2 linked regions of the Homo sapiens genome follow. The protein of the gene in region 1 interacts with the protein of each later gene in a pairwise test. Each region holds a gene or a part of one and is shown on either strand. Other genes may lie near its edges.

Region 1 (3,500 bases):
GCCCAACCATATAGACCACAGGGAAAGTGTGGCTATTCTAACCTTACTGACTCCGATGACCCCTTACCCACAGAGATACCCTTGTCCACAATGCCCCCATAATTCCTCTCTGTATGGACCATGCTACCCCCACCACTGACCCTGATTCTCCTGTGCCAGGTATTCTGGGCCATCGGGACAGTGTTCGAGGTCGTCCTGGCTGTGTTCGTGATGCCCAGCCTGGGCTGGCGTTGGCTGCTCATCCTCTCAGCTGTCCCGCTCCTCCTCTTTGCCGTGCTGTGTTTCGTAGGTATCCTTTAAGAGATTTCACCTTTTGCTGTCTGACATCTTACTGTCCACTCTATTTTGGTGGGGAGGGGATAGGGAAGGATACCAAAGCCACCTTTCAAGATTATTTTTTTTAAATCAGGAAATGAGACAAGGGAGCTATGGCCTGGGGTAGCCCCAGTATGGAGTGTTAGATTTCCTCCAGACAGACACTTCTGGGATGTTTTCTGGGGAGATAACTGGGGATGGGAGGATACATTGGCCCCATCATTGCAAAATCTACACTTAAAGTGATTGTATTGCACTAGTTGAGACTCTTAAGTTTCAAATGACAGAAACCCAATTCAAACTGGCTTGAGTAAAAGAGAGGGATAAATACATTTCAGAGGATTAAGTCAGACTTCAGGCATGGCTGGCTCCAGGAGTTTAAATGATCTCTTCATCTCATCTGTGCATAAACCACACCCTCTACTGAGATCTTGCCACATACTCATCATTTCATGGGCACATGCTTGAAACACTTTACAGCCAGTAGGCACTAAAATAAGCCTAGAGATGGGTAGTTCTCATGTACGGTAAATACCACAAAAATTCCTGGTAATGATAATAAGTATTAATAATTATTAAGCTTAACTGTGTGGCAGGCTCTGTGCTCCATGCATTATCATATTTATTCCTCCCAATAATCACAGGACTATAATGAACCCCTATATTAGTCAGGGTGATACCAGCTGCTGAAACAAATAAAGCCCACAAGTTCAGTAACAGCACGATAGGAGCTTCTCTCTCACTAACACAATAGTTCAGAATGACTTTTCTGGTTGGCAAGTGGAATTCTGGGCCCAGTTTTTGTCCAGCTGGTGGCTCTGCCATCCTCTAGGGCTTTGAAGTCTTCTACATACAGACAACAGACTTGCAAAAGGCAAGTGGAGACTGCACAGTCACTTCTTAAATACCTTGGCCAGGAATAGTCTGCTCATATGCCATTGGTGAACACAAGTCACTTGGTCCCACCTAGATGCAAAGGGAGCTGGGAAATGTAGTCCCTGTCTGGGCAGCCACATCTAAGGACAACTTTGCGCTATGAAAAAGGAAACAGAATGTTGGTGGGCATTTGCACTCTCTGCTATATCCTCTTTTTATTGATGAGAAAACTGAAGCCCAGAGGGGCTAATTGACTTGTTAAAGGGCCTACAGCAAGTAGACAAAAGAACTCTAAATCAGATCTTCTAACTCCTAGTCTTTTCTCCAGTATACCTGCTGTTTCAAACAGCTGTTGCTCCATTTTTACAGAAATGTATGTATGTAGTCATTTGGGGTTGGGACTTCCATTGGCCTAAAAATCTTTCTGATTTCTTTCTTTCTCTTGAACTGAGTTTGCAAGATGATGCTGAATACAGGTGAGGTGTAATTCCTTGAACAATGGGGGTGAGATTTCTGACAGTGATCTTAATTTAATTCAGCCCTCACCTGGAACTCTGAAAACAGCCCCAAATAATAGTAATAGCAACCGTGACAATAATAATAACTGCATTAACCCATACCAGGCACTGCACTAGGCACCTTGCCTGTATTATCCTGTTTAATCCTCTTAAGAGCCCTAAGAGGTAGGATCTCTTATCATTCACATTTTATGGAGAAGGAAATGAAAGCACAGAGAAGTCAAGTAATTGTACAGGGTCACACAACCAACATAATAAATGGTGGGGCCAGGATTTGAAGTCAGCTCTCTGGCTCCAGAGCCCCCACTCTTAAAGACCCCACATGCAACACTGTGTGGCTAGAAGCGAGTGCTCTGTTCCACCCTAACCAGCCACGCCTGGGTTTCCTGTCTCCCCCATCCCAGTGGCTGCCTGAAAGTGCAAGGTATGATGTGCTGTCAGGGAACCAGGAAAAGGCAATCGCCACCTTAAAGAGGATAGCAACTGAAAACGGAGCTCCCATGCCGCTGGGGAAACTCATCATCTCCAGACAGGTCAGTGCCTGGACCAATAGACTCTGCAATGTGCGTATCGGGGTGCATGCAGGGGAGTGTGTGCATATGGAGTAGGGCATGCATGCGAGGACACATGTGGGTATGTGTACCCAAGGTGGGGTGTGTGCGTGCACATGGAGCAGATGAGGGCCCAGTAGACAGGACCTGCAAGGGTAATTTGGCAACTCCAATCTGTATTTTCACTTCCAAGTTCTAAAAATGCTTCCTGGAGAATTTCACCAGTGATTAGAGAAAAGTAACCTCTGCTAATGGGTCCTGTAACTGCTCCTGCTTTGGTTTCGCCTTTCAGCACAGATGAAGTCTGACTAGCGAATGAGACTGATTGGCAAAAGCTGTGCAATAAAACCATATCAGGAAGGAGTGTGCTTAGATCTAGGGGATCAAACCGCACCCTGTGTAGGTGTTCTTAATGAATGGTGCCTCACTCCGCTGGTAACACCATCAGGGAGTCCACCACGGTGAAACTTAATGAGCACCTAGTATATGTAGGCACCAGCATTGCACACATGGGGAGAAAAGATTCGGATTTAAGGCTGCAGTCCCTGCCCTCAAGAACCATCCAAGCCGATTGAAGAAACATGACAAATACCTTAAGCAGACATCAGATCCTATAAAGAAATTACCTTTTAAAATAAAGTTATATTTCTGATTCTTTTTATATTATGCAAGAAGAACTGAATGGCATTTCACCAAGTTGGAAGGAGGTGTTTGGTCTGACAACATAGAGTCCAGGGGACCTGCCCCAAATCTACAGGGGCAGAGCAGGATGGATTCCTCAAGAGGTGCAGAAGCCTATTTGGTTGCCTTTGGGGAGAGATCCCTTCCATGGATGAGGGAAAGCCAGGCTGGTCTCGAACTCCTGGCTTCAAGTGATCAACCTGCCCCGGCCTCCCAAAGTGCTGGGATTACAGGCACGAACCACCACACCTGGCCATAGCATATATTTTTTAAAGAACATCGTAAAGCAAAGTTTGATAAATTTGTGAATTATGTAAAATTGGCCAATCGGTCATTTAGCTAATCAATCTTTTGGTAAATTGGCCTTTGGTGAATTAGTTTCTCAGCACATTAACTGTTGCCACCTAGACCTAGAACTGGGGAAGGCACATGTGTGTGTGTGAAATGGCTGGACATGCTTTGGACTGGTTTTCTGCTTGCTGTGTCCTTGGATCTGTGCTGAGGTCTGAGGGGCCAGGAAGGAGGGATCTGCTTCCCAAGTCCAGGTTTCCAGGTTGGA
Region 2 (3,186 bases), on another chromosome or scaffold:
CCCTTTTGCCACAATATAATTAATATTTCCTGTGTGAAAAACAACTGGTCAAATGATGTCCGTGCTTCCCTGTACAGTTTAATGGTGCTCATAATTCTGACCACACTCGTTGGCAATCTGATAGTTATTGTTTCTATATCACACTTCAAACAACTTCATACCCCAACAAATTGGCTCATTCATTCCATGGCCACTGTGGACTTTCTTCTGGGGTGTCTGGTCATGCCTTACAGTATGGTGAGATCTGCTGAGCACTGTTGGTATTTTGGAGAAGTCTTCTGTAAAATTCACACAAGCACCGACATTATGCTGAGCTCAGCCTCCATTTTCCATTTGTCTTTCATCTCCATTGACCGCTACTATGCTGTGTGTGATCCACTGAGATATAAAGCCAAGATGAATATCTTGGTTATTTGTGTGATGATCTTCATTAGTTGGAGTGTCCCTGCTGTTTTTGCATTTGGAATGATCTTTCTGGAGCTAAACTTCAAAGGCGCTGAAGAGATATATTACAAACATGTTCACTGCAGAGGAGGTTGCTCTGTCTTCTTTAGCAAAATATCTGGGGTACTGACCTTTATGACTTCTTTTTATATACCTGGATCTATTATGTTATGTGTCTATTACAGAATATATCTTATCGCTAAAGAACAGGCAAGATTAATTAGTGATGCCAATCAGAAGCTCCAAATTGGATTGGAAATGAAAAATGGAATTTCACAAAGCAAAGAAAGGAAAGCTGTGAAGACATTGGGGATTGTGATGGGAGTTTTCCTAATATGCTGGTGCCCTTTCTTTATCTGTACAGTCATGGACCCTTTTCTTCACTACATTATTCCACCTACTTTGAATGATGTATTGATTTGGTTTGGCTACTTGAACTCTACATTTAATCCAATGGTTTATGCATTTTTCTATCCTTGGTTTAGAAAAGCACTGAAGATGATGCTGTTTGGTAAAATTTTCCAAAAAGATTCATCCAGGTGTAAATTATTTTTGGAATTGAGTTCATAGAATTATTATATTTTACTGTTTTGCAAATCGGTTGATGATCATATTTATGAACACAACATAACGAACCACATGCACCAACCACATGGATTTTTTTTTAAATCAGTTACTTGAGTCAAAGTATGTATGGTGAGTTAAATTATGATGCTTATAGGTAATTTCCTATTTGGGACATAGTAGGTATACGCTTTTCCATTCTTACCACACATAATGGAACTTTGCAAATCCAGTATTTAAAGGCCTACATTTTATATAACTTTTCCTGCCCTTAGAAGAACTGCCATGAGTTTACTGTGGTACCTTAGTCAGCTGTTCAGTGGTGGAAACTATAGGGCTGAATTTGAGGATGCAAATCAGAATGATTTTGTCATATACGTATACATGTCCTGGTCACATATGTGTATAAGTCTTTTAGTAAAATCAACTAAAAGTACACACATTAAATGTTACCGCTAAATAATTGTTGACACATAATTTATTTGTATTGTTAATATATATTCCAATCCTTAAATATCTTGATCTTCACATTTTTAAATTATGTTTTTCTGATTCTCATGCTTCTAAGAAATTTGAAAAATAAAGGAAAATATAAAAATAAAATATATACAAACCAAATGAAATTAAAAAAATGTTATTCATAGTATACTTCCTGGTAAGGATTATATCATCTAAAATTCTTTATTTTATATTAATATTTCTCTTTTTCAACTTTTATTTTGGAGTCGGGGCATATGTGCACATATTAACTAAATATAATGCATGATGCTGAGGTTTGAGCTATGAGTAATCCCTTTTTGTGGCTGTATAACGTGACTGCACAGATGTACAAATATATTTTTAACCATTCCCTATTGTTAATTCCAGTTGTTTCTAACTTTTCTAAAAATAATATAAATTAAATGAAATTCCTGCTTTTTACCTGCCACTGAAGTCATGAAAATGTCTAGAAGGATTTTACCATGTCTTAAGGTCATATCTGGCATGATAGGGTTCAAAACACAGGCTACCTGGTATTAAACAAATTCACTTTGCTGGGCTCCACAATACACAGAAGGAGAAGCAGTCATCCATCAAAGTAGCTAAACATGAGGGCCAACAAGAAGTATAATCAGACTAGATGTACCATGGCTATTTAGATGGCATATATAAAAATACAAAAGAGGAACAAATAATGGTTTCAAATAAGATTCTCTAAAGGAAGTGGGCAAACATTCTAAATTACAAGCATTCATCAGCAATTGAGCTGATGAATACAAACTTCACATGGTCTGTTTCAGATTGAGTATCACTGGGGATTTGGATTTACCTTCTGCTCATGAATAAGTTAGGGTAAGGCAAATGATTTTAAACGTAACTAAATGCACACTGCTGCGTATAAATTTCTGTTTACAAATCTGAGGATCTCCGGAGGATATGTGAAATCCTTCCAGAAATTATAGTCTGTTTCTGGAGTATATATTTTGTTTCAATGATCTGTATCAATTTTTGCTCTAGTACTTTTAAAAACATTATGTTTTATGTTTTTAATTTAGTACACACAAGACTAAATAAGTAGTGTCCCTAATCACTCTCAGTTTCAAAAGAGTTTTTTTCACCTGTGAGACCAGTTTGACTTTTTTCACCTGTGAGTCCAGTCTGTCAAATTTTAAAAAGGAAACAAGCATTTAGTGAGTTTTCTATACTTTACAGTAATTTTATGTGCTGTTCTTCATTTGCTCCCATAATTCTTCTTAAGATTACTCTGAAGTGTTTTGTGCTTTTCTCTATGTATGTTTTGCCTATTCTGAATTTTTTTCTAAAACCATTATGTTTTCTTTGTAATCATTACTGCTGGTTATATAATAAAGTTTATATTAGCTTTTCAGTTGACTCGTTTGGGTTTTCATTATACAAATCATGTTATCCTCAAACAAGGCTAAGTTTTATCTTCTTTCCAATAATTATGATTCTGATTTATATTCCTTACTGTACTTCATTAGTTAGAATTTCTAAATCAGTATTGATAATGGTAATAACAATCATCTTTGTCTTATCTTACATTTACTTTAAAGTACTATACAGGTTTTAGCATTGATTCCACATTTATCTTGGGACAAGTTCATGACTCAAATAATTTTACATTTTTCACTCGGTACTAAAGCTCTTACAGTCTATTTTTATTGTAGGTTCTGTTTT

The links. Proteins that work in one complex are often made in the same cells at the same time.
Region 2: the proteins of SVOP (region 1) and TAAR1 interact in a two-hybrid assay, tested with the Homo sapiens proteins (one large-scale study listed by BioGRID and IntAct).

The regions. Positions count from the first base shown.
Region 1 is NC_000012.12:108,937,569-108,941,068, reverse strand, and holds part of SVOP (synaptic vesicle 2-related protein), read left to right. Parts: intron 1-159; coding exon 160-285; intron 286-2,113; coding exon 2,114-2,242; intron 2,243-3,500.
Region 2 is NC_000006.12:132,642,812-132,645,997, reverse strand, and holds the end of TAAR1 (trace amine-associated receptor 1), read left to right. Parts: coding exon 1-1,014; 3' UTR 1,015-2,686; downstream 2,687-3,186. UniProt on the Homo sapiens protein: Intracellular G-protein coupled receptor for trace amines, which recognizes endogenous amine-containing metabolites such as beta-phenylethylamine (beta-PEA), 3-iodothyronamine (T1AM), isoamylamine (IAA), cadaverine (CAD), cyclohexylamine (CHA), p-tyramine (p-TYR), trimethylamine (TMA), octopamine and tryptamine.